Linked DNA regions of Homo sapiens: regions 2 and 3 are each linked to region 1. The links come from fine-mapping of genetic effects on gene expression. A gene starts in region 1. Each other region holds a variant in brackets. All regions are shown on one strand. Distances are from middle to middle.

Region 1 (5,836 bases):
AGTGAGATCTCCGTCTAAAAAACAAACAAACAAACAAACAAACAAAAACAAAAATCAACGCATTTCTATATACCAGCAACAAGTAAAAACTAAGACTTTAACAGATACCATTTACAACGGCATGGAAAAATATGAAATAGGTGGTAATATATGAGATGGAAGACCCCTACAGAGATCACAAAGAACATCTAAATAGATAAGCCCACACCCACAAATTATAGGATGCAATATAAAGAGGACAGCACCCCAGAATGAACTGCAAGTTCAGCTCAGCCTTAAAATCCCAGCAGGCAGGCTCTACGTGTTTAAGAAGTAAGTATATAAGATACATGTGGAAGTGTGAAGGGACAAGAATAGCCATAGATGATCCCGGAGAAAGATACAGTGGGAGGGTTTGCTCCGTCCGCTAACAAGGCTTATAAATAAAGTGACAAGAACCGACTTAGTGGGTTATTAGCACATCGATATGTAAATGACCAAAAGAACAGAGCACAGCCCAGAAACACATCCACAGCAGAAGCTGCAGTGCAGATCAATGGAAAAGGACAGTCATTTCAATCAACGTTGGGTGCTGGACTAATTGCACATCCATGTGGAAAATTAGACTCCCTGCTTCACACAATCATCAATTCCACGCAGACTGAAGATTCAAGTGCGAAAGGTAAAACTGTACAGCTACGCCAAGATAACCCAGGGAGTGTTCCGGGCATGTCCCTCGGGGAGACACAATAGGCACCAATGATAGTGGGCGGATGAATACACCATCTATGTTAAAACTAGGAGCTTCTATTCATCCATGATTCCAGGAAAAGGGCTGGGCGCACAGATCACACCTGTAATCCCAACACTATGGGAGGCCAAGGCAGGAGGATCACTTGAGGCTAGGAGTTCAAGACCAGCCTGGGCAATACAGTAAGACCCCCATCTCCATACACATGCACAAAAATTAGCCAGGCGTGGTGGCAGCGCATCAGTCCCAGCTACTACAGAGGTTTAGGAGGGAGGACTGCTTAAGCCCAGGAGTTCAAGGTTAAAGTGAGCTATGATTATACCACTAGACTCTAGCCTGGGTGACAGAGTGAGACGCTGTCTCAAAAAAAAAAAAAAAAAAAAAAAAAAGGATTCCAGGAAGCTAAGTCAAAGTCAAAGGACAACTGGGAGATATTTGTAACTGAAAAAGGACTGATATCTAGCATTTATAATAAATAATAAAAAAGACACTCTTACAAAACAATGGGAAAAAAGAGAATTTAAAAGCAGATTTGAATATACAATTCTCAAAGCAGAAAACCAAACAGCAGGCCGAGTGCCATGGCTCACACCTGTAATCCCAGCCCTTCAGGAGGCTGAGGCAAGCAGATTGCTTGAGGTCAGGAGTTCAAGACCAGCCTGGGCAGCATGGTGAAACCCTGTAGTCCCAGCTACTCAGGAGGCTGAGATGGGAAGATCTGAGGTGAGGAGGTCAAGGCTGCAGTGAGTCACGATGGTGCCACTGCACTCCAGCCTGGTTGACAGCGCCAGACCCTGTCTCAAACAAAACACAAACACAAAAACAAAACACTCTGAAAAATAATTTGGCATGATCCTATGATCCTCACAATTCCACTCCTAGATGTTATACCCTAGAGAAATCCAAGATTCCAAACACCTGAACATATGACCGTAATGTAGTAACGGGATGATTTACAAGAGCACAAAAGCTAAGCGTGTCACTGTGGCAGAATGGATAAAGTGCCTCGTGCTCACAGACAGGAATACCACGCAGCAGTGAAAATTAAACTGCAGTCAGCTGCAACGTGGATGAAACTGTCACGGCGTCGACCAAAAAGACACATGCACGCCACACACAAAATACACTATGATACCATCACACTAACTCCAAATCCGGCAACCAAGCTGTGCCATTTAGGGGTGCATAAATAATTGCTCACACCGGGGAGATGGCACAGAAATGATTACCTTTCCAAAATGAGGAAGGGGAAAGGAAGAAGGCCGTGATTACCAGTGGGAGGCTTCCAAGGAACAGGCATGGTTCTACTTCTCCACCTGTGTAAGGATCACAGGAGTGGCTCGCGATGCTATTATTATTCGTTAAACTGAACAAAAATGCACTTTTCCATACATGTCATATCTCAATCAAAAGCAATTACAACCTATAATAGCTAATAATACATCAGTAGCCAGGAACGTTTAAACAACCATGGGGCTTCAATAGTCTGCAAAACTACTCGGTTTATTTCGCACGGAAAGCGATACAATATAAAGTTTAGGAAAAAAGAAAACAAACCTCACACACCCACTTATTGGAATGACGCAAAACGGCGTGTAGAAAAGAGTAAAACGGACACAGAGCGCTCCGGACGGCCGGGGTCTTTGCGAGGTGAGAACAAGAAAATCCAGTCAGCGGACACTGGAGCTACCGAGCCCAGGCCGCCCCTTCCTCACGCGGGGGTTTCTCTCGGGATCCCCGCCCTCGCCCAGGTCACCAGGGCTGCGTCCCCGACGGGAAACCCCGATGGGAGACCCCGCTGGGGCCGGCGCACCCCCGCTCCAAGAGTCGGTCGCTTCGGCACGGTGGGGGATTAGGGTGGTGAGGACCGAAGGCGGGGGAGGCGGGGGCGGGTGGGGATGAGTACCCGGGGGCCCAGGGAGGGGAGTGAGGACCTGGGGGTCGTAGCGAGAACCCGGGGCCCGGCGGGGAGGAGATTGAGGATCCCAGGGGAGGTGAAAACTTGGGTAGGGGTGAGGACGAAAAGTAGGGAGGTGAGGACCCTAGTGGGGGATTCCCAGGGGGCGAGGAGGGGCGGGGGGTCCTGAAGACCCACGGTGGGGATGAGAACCGAGGTGGGAGATGAGGATCGAGGCGGGGGATGAGGACCCAGGGGGAGGTGAGGACTGGAGGGAGGTATTCGGAGGAGCGAGGAGGGGGCGTGAGGGCGGGCCGGGGGGGTTAACAGTCTGAAGGGGGATGGGAAGGTTGGGGGAGGGAGCGAGGAGGGTCCGGAGTTGGGTGTGCGGGTCGGAGGTGGGAAGGTTGGGAATCTGGGGGCCGCGGGGCGCCACGCCTGCCTTACCTCGTCCACCGTGCGGCGCGGGAGGTGCAGCGTCCCGAGTAGCAACTTGAGCTTCACTGCCGACGAGAGGCCATGGAAGCAGAGACGGATGTTGTCGATGACCGCGGCCGTGAGCAGGGACGCGATGCTGGGCGGCGCCCACAGCTCGTCCGTGGCCCCCAGCTTGTTGTGCAGCCACAGGCCCGTGTCGCTCTCCCGCATGGACGCCATCTTGGGGGAAAGCGCGCGCCGCTGCCCCGGCATCTTATGAAGACACCTACGCGTCCCTCGCTAGGACCCCAACATGGCGGCGCCCGTCGGGCTGCGGGCCGCAGAGGCGGCGCAGGTGGCGCGGTCCCACGAGCGGGGCTTCCCGGGAGAGCGCTTCTGGGTGGCGACCGCGTCTCCGGGTAGCGGCCGCGTCTTCGGGAAGCTTTGTGGCAAAGCCGAGAGCCGGAAGGACGGGGTGCCGCTGAGCAAGGACTATCGGCTTCCGTAAAACATCATGGCGGCGCCCTCTGCTGGCTCTCGGGAAGACCGCAAAAAATGACGTCACGAGCAGGCGCGCGTATTCGCGTCTTGGGAGCCCGGGCTGCGGCCTGGCATTCGCAGTGCAGGTGTCAAGCGCCGCAGACTTGCTGCTCGCGCGGTGGGGCGGAGGCTCCCTGTGGCACCTGCCCCGCTGTCCGCTCTTCGCTTTTTCCCCGCTTGGGTCTCGGCGCGGACCGTGTGGACGCCCCGCCCCCGCGGGCCCAGCACCTGCACGGAGAGGAGCCGCGGCCCTGCGGAGCGAGCCTGCGGGATCCCGGTCGCAGCGCTGAGCTTCCGTCCCCCGCTGAGCCCGCTCTGCCCGTGGCGCGCCGCCGACGGGGCTGCGCTGAGCATGCGGGTCGGAGGGCGCTCGGGAGCTGTCCAGGGGCACTCGTGACCCCACAGTGCAGGGAGGCCCCGGCCCCCAGTCGGGCTGGAGCCGCCAGGCAGGAGCCAGTAGTGAACTTTTCAGTTTTAAAAGCTTGTCATTAGATACAAACATGAGTAAAAGTTAAACTTCATTTTATTAAATTCGTTTTACCCTTTTGTCTTTTTGACGAGGCCTTCCTATGTTGGCCAGGCTGGTCTCAAACTCCTGGGCTCAAGCGATCCGCCCGCCCGCCTCTGCCTCCCAGAGTGCTGGGGTTACAGGTCGGGGCCGCCTTGCTTGGCTTCTGTATTATATCTTTTTTTTAAAAGATCTTTTCCTTATTGTTCCACTGCCATGCTCCTGCCGCCGTTCACAGCTATTGCCACTGGGCGGTGGGAACGCCGGGAGAACAGGGCTCAGCCCAGCTGCTAGCAGTGCCCTGGCCCTGGCGGCTTGAACTTGGCAGTCCTGCGGAAGTCACACGGGGGAAACCCGCAAATGCTACAAATCAGTGCTGGAGCGGTGGTTTTGTTGATTGCTTAAACTGAAGAAAGTGATAGAGAAAATGTTGATGATAAAGATTAAACTTAAAACTGTCATGTCGACAACCGTTACATTGCAAATAGCACATAAAATTTAAGAGAATATTTTTTAAATGATTCAAAAGTGTCGAATTCAGCAAAGACAAGTTATTGACTAATGGGTGAAGTTGTGACATCAGTGGGGCTAGTGCTGAAAGAAGTTTAATGATTAGGCCGGTCACGGTGGCTCACGCCTGTAATCCCAGCACTTTGGGAGGCCAAGGCGGGCGGATCACCTGAGGTCGGGAGTTCGAGACCAGCCTGGCCAGCATGGAGAAACCTCGTCTCTACTAAAAATACAAAACTAGCCGGGCTTGGTGGCGCATGGCTTGCCTGTAAGCCCAGCTACTCGGGAGGCTGAGGCAGGAGAATGGCTTGAACCCGGGAGGCGGAGTCTGCGGTGAGCCGAGATTTTGCCATTGCACTCCAGCCTGGGCCACAAGAGCAAAACTCCCTCTCAAAAAAAAAAAAAAAAGTTTAATAATTATAATCTGAGGGTAAGAAATAGTTTAACAGTGGACGACATATCAAATTTAGTATGAGAAGAGTGAAAGTTACTTCAAGTTGTGAAATCATGATTGAACCGTAAACATTAGTTGGTTGAAATGAAAATTTTTGTTCACAGAAACCTGTGTGCAAACGTTTATAGCAGCTTTATTTATAATAGCCCCAAACTTGAAACAATCCGAATGATTCTGACCCCCAACTGTCTGTAGCTTTCTGTAGGATACGCAGCACTTTTCTGTATACAGTGCTTGATGCATCTTGAGTCTTCAGTTTTATGCAGGAAAAATCCAAGTTAACATCTGGCTTAACCAAGAAGACAAACCACTAGGAGGACTTAGTTACAGCATCAGAAAGCAATGGATTAATATTCAGAATGAAAAAAGGAATGCTTGTAAATCGACGAGAAAAAGACCGACAATAGACAAATGTGCAGAAGATAAGAATAGGCAATTCACAGCCTGGCCATCATAGTGAAACCCCGTTTCTACTAAAAATACGAAAACAGTGGGGCGTGGTGGTTCATGCCTGTCATCCCAGCTACTCAGGAGGCTGAGGCAGGAGAATCGCTTGAACCCAGGAGGCAGAGGTTGGAGGGAGCGGAAATCACACCACTGAACTCAGGCGTGGGCCACAGAGCGAGACTCTGTCTCAAAAAAAAAAAAAAAAAAAAAAGCAATTCGTAGGAGAAACCCAAATACCGGAGAAGCACATGGAGAGATGCTTAAATTCATCAGCAACCTGACAAACCCAAATTAAAATAACAAGATGCCTCATTACACCTATCAGATTGCAAA
Region 2 (5,836 bases), 130 kb before region 1:
GGAGTCATATGATCACGGCTCATTGCAGCCTTGATCACCTGGGCTCAATCGATCCTCCTACCTCAGCCTCCTGAGTAGCTGGGACAACAGGCATGTGCCACCATGCCTGGCTAATTTTTGTGTTTTATACAGACAGGATTTCACCATGTTGCCCAGGCTGGTCATGAACTCCTGGGCTCAGGTGATCCTCCCACTTCGGCCTTGTGCCTGGCCTGCAGTATAGCTTTTTAAAGAATTGATTGATTTGATTACATTTGGTTTGCTAGTTAAAAAATCCAGACAGATTGGCCGGGTGCAGTGGCTCACGCCTGTAATCCCAGCACTTTGGGAGGCCGAGGCGGTTGGATCACGAGGTCAGGAGGTCGAGACCATCCTGGCTAACATGATGAAACCCCGTTTCTACTAAAAAAAAAAAATACAAAAAATTAGCTGGGCATGGTGGTGGACGCCTGTAGTCCCAGCTACTCGGGAGGCTGAGGCAGGAGAATGGCGTTAACCCAGGAGGCGGAGCTTGCAGTGAGCCAAGACTGCGCCACTGCACTCCAGCCTGGGAGACAGCGAGACTCCATCTCAAAAAAAAAGAATTCAAGACAGATTTTGGCTGGGTGCGGTGGCTCAAGCTTGTAATCCCAGCACTTTGGGAGGCCGAGGCGGGTGGATCATGAGGTCAGGAGATTGAGACCATCCTGGCTAACATGGTGAAACCCTGTCTCTACTAAAAATATAAAAAATAAGCTGGGCATGGTTGCAGTGCCTGTAGTCCCAGCTACTCGGGAGGCTGAGGCAGGAGAATGGTGTGAACCTGGGAGGCGGAGCTTGCAGTGAGCTGAGATCGCGCCACTGCCCTCCACCCTGGTTGACAGAGCAAGACCCCTGTCTCAAAAAAAAAAAACCAAGACAGATTTCAAATTAGTTTTGTTTTAGTATCTGCTTTCCTAAAACCACCTGGCCCCAGATGAGTTTTCAAAGCATTTTACTTTCTGTAATACTTAGTGGTTTCAACAAAATATACAAGGATAGAAATTGCAGTGTTGGTTAGCTGAGTGATGGCCTCAGCTCAAAAACTCCAGTAGTGGATAGGCACAGTTGCTCATGCCTGTAATTGCAGCACTTTGGGAGGCTGAGGTGGGAGGATCACTTGAGACTAGGAGTTTGACACCAGCTTGGGCAACATAGGGAGACCCCATCTCTACAAAAATTTTTGAAAATTAGCTGGGCTTGGTGGTGTGTGCCTATAGTCCCAGATACTTGGGTGGCTGAAGTGGGAGGTCACCTGAGTCCAGGACTTTGAGGCTGCAGTGAGCTGTGATCATACCACCACACTCCAGCCTGGGAGATAGCACAACCCTCTCTCAAAAAACAAACCTAAACACAAAACCCCAATAGTGAGACTACCCTAGTGGGTGTGTAGAAAAAATGCTTTTTTTTTCTGGAAGGAATTGGAACCTCAATTTTTAAGTTGACTTGAGTTGGCACTGAGAGAGTTGATGATGTGAATTAAATTTGTTATGCCGTTTGCTGGTGCGGTGGGTGGCTCACGCCTGTAATCCCAGTGCTTTGGGAGGCCAAGGCAGGCAGATCACCTGAGGTCAGGAGTTCGAGACCAGCCTGGGAAATGTGGTGAAACCCCGTCTCTACTAAAAATACAAAAAATTAGCTGGGCGTGGTGGTGGGTGCCTGTAATCCCAGCTACTCGGGAGGCTGAGGCAGGAGACTTCCCTGAGCCTGGGAGGCAGAGGTTGAAATGAGCCGAGATCATGCTACTGCACTCCAGCCTGGGCGACAGGACGAGATTCTGTCTCAAGGAAAAAAAAAAAATTGTTATGCTTTTAGAGGATCTGTGCATGTTAGCAATGTTCTTACATTTTGATGGTTTTCATATATTTTTTGCTGCTATATTATGGAGGCTAATGATCAGAAAGCATTTTTCCGACTCCGGTTTTACTGTCTTCAGGTAGTTCTCTACACACTGCCTTGTCTTTCTAAAATACAGATGTCCTATGTGTCCCCAGTCTTCAGGGGGTGACTCTCACTGCCCATTGGGGTTCAAGACGAGTCTCTCACTGGCTTTCTGACTCTCACTGCACTACTTGTTTTGCCCTCATCTCAGTTACTCAGCTCATCTCTTTCTGCCATGTTTTTCCTCTGGGCCTTTGTGTGGTCAATTTTTGTTCCTTTCTTCTGCCCATGTGCCCCCTTACCCCATGTGTTTGGGGGATAGGCATGCTTTCCCTCTTCCTTCCTTCTGCCAGGTCTCAGCTTGGGCCCCACACTGAATGCTGTGCCTGACTCCTGCCTGTTTTGGGAGGCTCTTGTCTTTTCCATCGTCACCCACTCCCATTCTCATTCTGTTCCAGCCACACGGGCCTCTTGCCTGCTCTGAAGCCCTGCAGCTCTGCTGCCTCCGACTAGTGCCCTTGTTCCTTCTTTGACCTGGAATGCTGTCCCCAGGTATCTGTGTGGCTTACCCCTCACCCTCCTTCAGGTCTTTGTGCTTCTCCCTCTCGGGCACCTTCTCTGACCACTGATTTAAAGTACTCTGTTGTGACCAGGTACTATTACAGTTTATCTGTGATCCTGGTGCTTTATGAAGCCAAGACGAGAGGATCACTCCAGCCCAGGAGTTTGAGGTTGCAGGGAACCACGATTATGCCACTGCATTCCAGACTGGGTGGCAGTAAGACTCTGTCCCAAAAGAAAAATAAAATTTAAAAAAAGTATTATATATATACACACACACTTCTGAGACGGAGTCTAACTCTGTCACCCAGGCTGGAGTGCAGTGGCACAATCTAGGCTCACCACAACCTCTGCTTCCTGGGTTCAAGCGGTTCTCCTGCCTCAGCCTCCCAAGTAGCTGGGATTACGGGTGTGTGCCACCATGCCCGGCTGATATATATATATATATATATATATATTTTTTTTTTTTTTTTTTTTTTTTTTTTTTTTTGTATTTTTAGTAGAGACTAGGCCATGTTGGCCAGGCTGGTCTCGAACTCCTGACCTCAAGTGATCTGCCTGTCTTGGCCTCCCAAAGTGTTCGGATTACAGGCGTAAGCCACCATGCCTGGCCAAAAAAACTTTTTTTAATTATTCTGTTGCTATCTGGCACTCCACATCTGCCTTAGATTTTCTCCATAGCACATACCTCCAACATTCCATGTGAATTCCTG[G/A]CTGCATTGGGTCATCTGTGAAGGCAGGGACTTTTTTCCTTTTGCTTGGCTTGCTGTCATGTCCTCAGCACCTGGAATGGTACCTGAGTGACTGTCAGGCATTCAGTGACTATTTGAATACATACACAGCCCTCAGTACTTCGTATGCCTTAGGGGGCATAATATGTCCCAGAAATGGTGTGAATGAAGGGGAGTGGTGTGAGCATTTTGCCTTGATGTGGAGTTGGAAAGGTGGAGGGCCATGGGCTGGTGGCAGAGGTCACAGAAGAGCCTTATGCACCATTAGCAGGGCTGGAGAACTGTGACTTAACCAATGCACAGGAGGCAAGGCTGGGAAGGTGTGGACAGGTGGGAGAGAATGAGCAGAGGCAGCATTGCCCGGACTGGGCCATAGCGTGAGAGTGGTGCAGGAGAGGGTCCTTGGTCCAATCCTTACAGATGGAAAGATTGGGTAGTTGCTGGTACTGTTACCTCTCTGTGAACCAGGGGAAGGGAAAGTGGGCCTCGCTTCTGACCTACCTTATTTCCTTCCAGAAGGAAGCTCTGATCTCACCTACCTGCCTAAAAATGTGTCTCTGGAGCTTCACTGTTTGCTTAGAAGAGAAAGCCCTAGATCTTGAGCATGGCATGTGGTTCCTGCCTGTCTTTCCTTTATGTATCTATGTGTATATATGTAAATATATACAACACTTTTTAAAATTATTTTATTTTATTTTATTTTATTTTTTTGAGACGGAGTCTCGCTCTGTCACCCAGGCTGGAGTGCAGTGGAGTGATCTCAGCTCGCTGCAAGCTCCGCCTCCTGGGTTCACACCATTCTCCTGCCTCAGCCTCCCAAGTAGCTGGGACTACAGGCGCCCGCCACCATGCCCGGCTAATTTTTTTGTATTTTTAGTAGAGACGGGGTTTCACCGTGTTAGCCAGGATGGTCTCAATCTCCTGACCTTGTGATCCGCCCGCCTCGGCCTCCCAAAATGCTGGGATTACAGGCTTGAGCCACCGCGCCTGGCCTACACACATTTTTTAAAAAATGTGTATTTTTTCTTTCCTCTGTGACTCTGGCCAGTGATCCTGCCTGTCTTTCTAGCATCTTTGCTGGCCAGTCCTTTGTGGTTGCTGTGAGATCTCATCATGCTGCCTGTAGCTCTTGTGATGAGCCGTGCCCTGTCCCATGGATCTTTGCATGTGCTGTTGCTTCTTCCTGAGTTGCCTAATTTTGTGTTGCTGTGGTGGTTTTATGGCTCACCTCTCATCTCTGTGAAGCCTTTCCCTATTTCTACCAGAACCGGGTGTTGCAGACCCTGGGCCCATGGCACTTGTGTGTGTGTGTGTGTGTGTGTGTGTGTGTGTGTTTTCTCCCAAGTTTGTCATGCCTTTGTGAGTACTGGGCCCTCTTATGACAGTTAGCATGTTGCACAGGCTCTTGCCCCATTCTCTTCTCCAGGTTGTGAATTTTTCAAGGTGAGGGCCCTTTGATATGTCTTCAGTGCCTAAATGTGGAAAGCACTTAGTTAACAAGTAGAGATAGTTTTTGGGTATTATTCTGTTTTCCTAATGATTTTTATTTCATAAAAATGTGAATTTCTAGATTTTTGGTTAAAATATGTGTTAGAAATAGGAGGCTTCTGTGTTCTTTCCCCTCCAAAATTCGGAGTTGGTGTAATCTTTGTAGAGCCTTGCTACACAAATCTTTCAGCAGCAAAGCATCTTCTTCTCATTGAATCCTCACAGCAGGAAATTGAATCCCAAAGATGTCAAGTAACTGATCCAAAGTCACAAGGCTGTATGTGATGAAGTTAGAACTCCTGCAGGGCCTGACCTCTGATTCTGTACCCTGGGAACTTACTTTGTTTTGCCTCTTGGAAAACTAACATACAGCAGTCTATATGTGCATGGAAGACTGAGCCATTATATTTCTGCCAGTCAGTGTGGCAGTGTACTTCTGCCTGATATTTCTTCATTCATTGAGTATCAGTTGTGTGCCAATGATGAGCCAAGACCTATGTCCTCGTTCCCATGGGTTTTATAGGCCTGTAATGGGATGAAATGGGGAGGGACAGTGAGCAAAGGTCATATCTTTGAAAAATCTGTGAAATACTCCTGCCAAAAAAAAAAAAAATCAAACCTGAGTCCAGTCAAGCTCCTATGTTTAACAACCAATCTACAGGAAATACAGGGGCAAGAGAAATACTACAGAGTTGCCATTGGCAACACTGAGAAATGTGGGAAACTATAAGACCAGTAAGCCATACTCATCAACAGGGAAAAATGAAGGGGACTGATGACAAGAGACTGGAGGAACATGGACTAATTTTTATTGTAGGGCTTATCTGTGTTTGTGTCAGATCAGTTTGTTAGAGAAACAGCTGAATATCATTTGTGATATTTGAGACAGAATTTGGAACACTGATTATATTTATTATTGAGGAATTATTTTTATTTTTAGCTGTGATAGTGGGTTTGTTATGTTTAGTAATTCCTCCCTTTTAGAGGTGCATACAGACATTTACTGATGAAATGGTACATCATCTAGGGTTTGTGTCATGATCCTATGGGAGAGGGAGTAGGTTATTTGTGGTTACATCAGGACTTCAGGGCTGGTCTAGGTTGAGAGTGGTATGGGCACATGGGTTCTAACTTTTTTTTGAGATAGGGTCCCTCCC
Region 3 (5,836 bases), 26 kb before region 1:
AAATGTGTAGCGTAGGCTTTTCCCAAGGGTCGCTAGAAACTCGTCTTCGCGTTGCCCCCTTTCTGGCTCTCAGCGCCGTCGCCACTCGGGAGAGGCTGGGTGAGGCCCGTGTGAGGACTGACCCTGGATTCCTCGAAACTGCCATTGTGATCATTACTCTGCTCTTTGGAAATGGCTGTATCATTTTTTTGTACTAATGTGAATTGTTCCTCAGAAACGCTTCTTTTCCATCCTAGTGAGAAGCTGGCCCTGCAGGTGGTGGCAGCAATGGTGTTGTAAGATTTCCTCCCGTAGTTTTTTCTCCTCATGGATTTGAATGAAATGCCAATAACACGTCCACTTTCAACGTGTAGTTTACGCGGAGCACTTTCGAGGCCTGGCCGGGTTGGGCCTACTTCTCACCTGGGCCTATCTTCTGAACTCGCTAGGTTCTTATCAACATTTGGGGGATAACTTTGTATATTTTTTTCATTTGGCTTTTCTTTACCAGTTTCTGATTTTTATTCTCAATATATTTTTGCTAAACCTATTTCACAAATCACCACCGACTGAAGTGTGTGTTTACTGATGCGGCCCTGAGCTCCATGGCGAAAGGAGTGACTTTGCAGGGCGTGAGACCGCAGTCTGCTTAGAGCACAGGAAGTGACAACTTAGGGAGCCCCGTAGGGCGCTGCAGGCCCCGGGGACCCCAGCACGTGGGTCTAAAGAGAGACGGAGTCTAGCTCTCCTGCCACCCAGAGTGGCTTCCATCTCAGCACTCTGTGGGTCTGGTGATGGAAGATGCAGTCTCTGCTGATCACATGTGCCCTCTGCCAGGGCACCTACTGAGAGGTGCGGTCCTGGGGGTGGAGGCCTGCCTGGCAGGTGTGCGTGCCTCGTACGTGTGTTATGGGCACTGGTCTAGGCCAGGTATGACACCCACTCTCCTGTGAGATTTCACTTTAGTTTTTAAAAGGTCCAGTTCTACAGAGTGAGACCTATCTATCTGAGTACTACATATGTTTTAAGACTTGGTTCTTTTTTTGAGGGATCCTTGACCCTGGGAAGTCTGGAGCACCCTGAGAAGGGGGCACCATGTGTGCCTTTGCCCACGTGTCCTGAGGGGCTGCTTGTCTGGGAGGGAGGGAGAGAACATTCAGCAGCAGGTGCTTTTTTATGGCCTTTTCTTAAAATAACCTAAGGGGGACACATCCATCTTGCAGAGAAGTTTACAGAACTCCCCTTGAAAACTGCTGCTGAGGCTCCTGTTAAATTTTCTGTGGCATCTTTTATGCCTTGGTAAAAACTGCAGTGTCTTTGGACCTGAGAGTGGCTACTCCGTGGTTTTGTGACCTGTAAGCGTGGGGTTCAGGGGTGTGTGGCCCTGCAGGGTCCCACGCCTCCCTGAGCACTGACTGGAAGTTTCACTGGCTGGTGGCTGTCCCTTCTCCCATCAGGGTCCCCAGCAAAGTTAACTACACAGAGGACCCAGGGGAAACGAGCTGTGTAGCCACTGACTTGCTCGCGCGGCCGTGGCCTCTGAGGGGCACTCGCCGGTTAAGACAGGGTGGGAGTAGTGCTTTCCAGTTCAGACTCTAACTTCTCCCAAAGTGTCCTAAGAAAATACTGGATCGGCTCATAGATTTATGCTCCTTATGATGCCCTAACTTGGAAGGTTGTTCTAGGGACAGGCCGGGCAGTGTCCCCACACACACCTTAGAGTCGAAGGCCCCAGGGCCCCGCTGTCACTTGCCCAAAAGATCCCTTCCGGCAGGTAAGGGACTACCAATGCTTACGTCAAAACAGCAGAATCGGCTTTGCAGTGCACTTTGGGGAGCAGATATTAACTTATTTTTGTGTTGGACAGTAGTGAAATCTTGTGATTTTTAATCGCTTTGATAATACTTCCAAATTTTATGATTTTTCTGAAGGAAATAATGCAAACATTTTAAATATGTTTCTCCCCCTTTCCAAAAACTGTTAAACTAATGAGCAAGTAACACTAACTTTGAATGTCTCTACAATACCCGTTGATAACTCAGTGGAGCCAGGCTTTGGGGTAGCGGCCCTGAGCTTGCAGGGTTTCTCGCCACTGGGGCTGACCACGCCCCCAGCTGTGACCGTGGGTGTGGCTGGCTCTCGGCCCTGCCCAGCTTTGTTCTGAGGACGTGGTGACTTCCTGAACATCAGCTTCAATCCTCCATCATTAATGTGAAGCAAAACACAAAAACCGCCCCAATCCCTCAGGATTCCTTGGCATCCGAAACCAGCATCTGCACCTAAACCCATACCCACCCGTGTGCGCCCACAGGGGGATGTGTCCGAATGGGCAGCTTAAAATGTGGTCACCTGTGGGGGAAACTCTTCAGGCACCTGAAGTGAGAACCCAGCTGTCCGTCCTCAGGCCGGCCTTTCTTCCGGCGACACCCGTCCATGGCTGGCTGGGTCCCCTTCGCAGTGTTTGTCTGTCTTGACATCTAAACCCCGGCGTGTGCAGTGCCCATCTTCCAGGACTACCTTATTTTCCAGAATTAAACCTGTTTTATAATTCAAGTTAATGCAAATGACTGTCAGTTGCCAAATATCTTGATCCTATGAGTGTAGTTGATGACTGTTTGTTAGTCAGTAGAGTAAAATGCTGTGTCCACGGGGTGTCACAGCCTCACCATACCCTGTTGAGGTGTGAAATGCCCCGTCAGAAATTAAATACAAACTTAAATGTGCCTATTGGTGTCTAAACTTCATACAATGTAAGGTCAGATTCCTTTTAGGAATACTGGGTGCTGTCACCAGGTTTGATAGTTAGACTTAAAAACTTGAAATTCACTTTTTGGGGGGAGGGATATACTGAAATAGAGAGTTGAGACTTGCCAGTTGGGGGAAAATAGCATTTAAAATGGAAAGCTGTGTTTGGAAAATTGTGTATGAGTATTTTTGTATTAAAAACATTTTAAAGGCTTTTTTCTTAACTTATTTTATATGGGATTGTTTGATTTTTTTTCCAGTTACTTTGAATTGCAAAGCATCGGGTGTGGCACTGATGCCTCCGATGGGTGGGGCTCCCTGTCCTGACTGTGTCATTTTGCCTTTGACCTGACCCGCTGGGGAGAGGCAGTGCCACCTTGGGAAGTATAACAACAAATACTGGAAATAGCAGGCATAACTGACTGACTTTGGAAAAATGCTTTCTTCTTCTTTCAGAAATAATTTGCTTCCCAAATTCCCATTAAGGGTGAAATGGTCTAGAGAGAAGGAAGCACTGCTGTCCCCCAGCCCTGCAGTCGGCTGAGCCGGGTGGTCCCCAGGCCCACAGCCAAGTAAGTCAAGGGAGTACCCCGAGGGCTGATCCTACCTGTTCCCCACCCTGTGGGCCAGGGTGTCCTAGGAAGCCCCCAGCCCTGGCCCACCCCGTCCTGATGGCCGCCTAGGGAGGGACTGGGTCCCCGGAGCAGGGAGGACAAGCTGGCCCCAAACACAGCTATGGTGGCTTTCTTTAGAAAAGCTCGACTTTAATGGTTCAGATAGTTTTACAATGAAAATAGGTACCCAAAG[A/ACTGT]CTGTCTTAAATGTCCACAACTATACAAAAGATGAATACAAAACTCCCAGGCAGGCACAGGCAGGGGACAAGGCCCACCGTCTCCCACGCTCTGGTGTGGTCGGGTGTCCCTGCCGCACCCCCAGTACCACCGTGCCACCTTGGTCCCCTCAACCCTGGGGGTAGGAGGGCACTGCCCCAGCGAGGGAAAATAGAAAAGATTTTAAAAAGTAAGAGTCTAACAGGCAGAGCTGTCACTAAAATTAGGAAGTTGTAACTTTTTTGGTTAATTTACTTACTACATTCAAAAATGTAACGTTGAGTCCAAAAAGTGTCTTAAATCACACAAAAAAGAACCCATATTAAAATTTTAAAAATAAGCCCCAAATACCCCAGAGAAATGCATCCAGAACTTAAAACAGGCTGGGTCAGCAGCAGGGCGGCGGCCGGGGGACCTCGGGGGCCAGGTGTCCGCCATCCGGTTACTTTAAGCTGGCAAAGCCATCGTCCCGTGGACCCCCACAAGTGACGGCCAGCTGTGAGGCAGGTGGTTCTAGGACACATTGGTCATGGGCTTGTACTTCTTGAAGCGCGTCCACTGGCCCGTGGCATAGTTCATCTCAAACACTGTGTCCACCAGCATGGTTGTGCTACCCTGGCCGTCCGCCTTGGGCAGGTCCTCCGTGTGCTCGCTCAGCTTGATCTGGATCACGTCCCCCTGCTCCTGGCACGGGTTCTCTGCAGAGAGCAGGAGCTGCTGGGTGGGTGTCTGGGGGCACCCGCCCCCAACCCGGCCCGGTGCACCCCCAGGCCCTGCCTTATGAACATACCTCGGGAGCCGGCCATGAAGCCCAGGATGAGGGCCTTCTCGGGCCGCGTGACTTTGTTGGCCGTCTTGAACATCTCCTGGGCAGCGAACATCTGCTCTCTCTACAGCGGGGAGAGGGGTGTGGGTGCCAGGGCCCCGCCAGGACCACCTCCTGCATCCCCCTGCAGGCACCGTGGCACCCCCACGCTAGGGGAGGTGGCCAGGGCCGTACCACCTACCTGGTGGCCTGTGGGCCCTACCAGTGTACACCTACCGTGAGGGACAGGTTCTTCTTAGGCTGCTGCTGAGCAGGGGCCTGGGTCTGCGGGGCCACCATGGCAACCGGGGGTGTCTGAGTGGTAGGGGCGACAGCCGGAGGTGTGGTGGGTGTCAGAGGCGAGGTGGGCGCCGCAGGCGTGGGTGTGGCAGGGCTCAGGCCGCTGTTGTACATGGGCGCCCGCTGCTTGAACTGCGCTGGCAACGTGGGGCTCGGGGCGCTGGGCTCCTCTGGTGGGCGGCTGGCTTCCCGGGAAGATGGGGCTGCAAGTAGACCGGGGCCTGGTGAGGGGGCTGGACCCCCACCCTGTTCCCAAACCCTAGTGCTCCTGGAGGTGACAGGCTCAGCTCCCCTTCTCTGTCCTGCTACCCTCTGACAAGAACTCCCTGTGGCCCCCAGCCAAGGCACAGGCCCCAGAAGCCCCAGCCAGAGGAACAAGGCCAGTGGTCTCAGGCCTTTCCAGACTCGCAGATAAGATGTCTGGACTCTGGCCAGCTGCTGGCCTGCAGCAGGTCCCCATACCGTAGGCACTGCTGGGAAGACAGGAAGGCTGTATCCTCAAGCCCCTTGGGCCCAGGACCTGGCCTGAGGTGCTGTGAGCCTGGCAGTGCCCTCCGTCTGGGAGGGGATGGCTCTCAGCTCCCCTCCCGCCTACCCAGCAACAAGAGCTGGGTCACCTGGCAGAAAACCCTTTCGAACCCAATCCCCTTCCTGCCGTGTCCCCTGGGGCCGCTGCCTGTCTGTGCCCAGGACGGGCAGGGTGGGGCAAAGCAGCTGGTTTATGTCTTGGAGCTCAAGCTGAACAGCGGGGCATCTGCCCCCAGCAGATTCTGGCTGAGGCAGAAGGGGGACAACAGAGATGCAGGAGTGAGAACCGCAGCCCTGGCAGCGCCCGTGGGCAAGGTCATGTCCTGGCAGGCAGCTTGGCTGGTTCCAGGCTGGGGCCAGCAGACTCACCTGGGGGCGTCTCGGAGCTGGGGATGTAGGAGGAGGCGGGAACCACGCTGGGCGTGGAGGGAAGGTAGCTCGTGGAGGGCAGCGCAGGCTCATTGTTCAGGGACCCAAGTTTCTGGAACACAGAGTTTAAGGTTCCTTCCAGAAGAGGCCATGCTTCCGGCATGTGCTAACACATGGCCCGACCCGGAGCTCCACTGCCACAGGCTGTGGCCCCCCGAGCTAGAGCAGGAAGGCGGGGGCCACTCTCCCGAGCTCCCTGGGCTAGACAACGGGACCCCTGGCCC

Alleles and levels. Alleles are on the strand shown, and positions count from the first base shown. SD is a standard deviation of normalised expression in the study named. Not every link is listed here.
In carriers of allele A in region 2, the expression in subcutaneous fat of the gene that starts at base 3,299 in region 1 tends to be lower than with G alone (small effect, 0.15 SD a copy in GTEx).

What was found.
Region 2: its variant is fine-mapped to the expression of NELFA in subcutaneous fat (GTEx, PIP above 0.99).
Region 3: its variant is fine-mapped to the expression of NELFA in whole blood (INTERVAL, PIP above 0.99).

Annotation. Positions count from the first base shown.
Region 1 is chr4:2,005,676-2,011,511 of GRCh38, forward strand. NELFA (negative elongation factor complex member A) reads right to left here and starts at 3,299. Exons shown (of 11, transcript NM_005663.5): 1 at 3,075-3,299. The coding sequence starts at 3,284. LOC124900839 reads right to left here. Exons shown (of 4, transcript XM_047416543.1): 4 at 3,331-4,498. The coding sequence starts at 4,086. The coding sequence ends at 3,331. RefSeq lists enhancers at 2,982-3,482, 3,090-3,609 and a silencer at 3,670-4,049.
Region 2 is chr4:1,875,335-1,881,170 of GRCh38, forward strand. The region is part of intron 1 of NSD2 (nuclear receptor binding SET domain protein 2); the gene reads left to right. Among named protein-coding and RNA genes, the nearest start is that of NSD2, 6.9 kb to the left of the region's middle. The variant G/A (reference allele first, on the strand shown) is at 3,174.
Region 3 is chr4:1,979,256-1,985,091 of GRCh38, forward strand. It overlaps NSD2 (nuclear receptor binding SET domain protein 2), which reads left to right. Exons shown (of 22, transcript NM_001042424.3): 22 at 1-2,937. NELFA (negative elongation factor complex member A) reads right to left here. Exons shown (of 11, transcript NM_005663.5): 8 at 5,553-5,664; 9 at 4,593-4,858; 10 at 4,341-4,440; 11 at 3,468-4,248. The coding sequence ends at 4,064. Among named protein-coding and RNA genes, the nearest start is that of MIR943, 4.3 kb to the right of the region's middle. The variant A/ACTGT (reference allele first, on the strand shown) is at 3,532.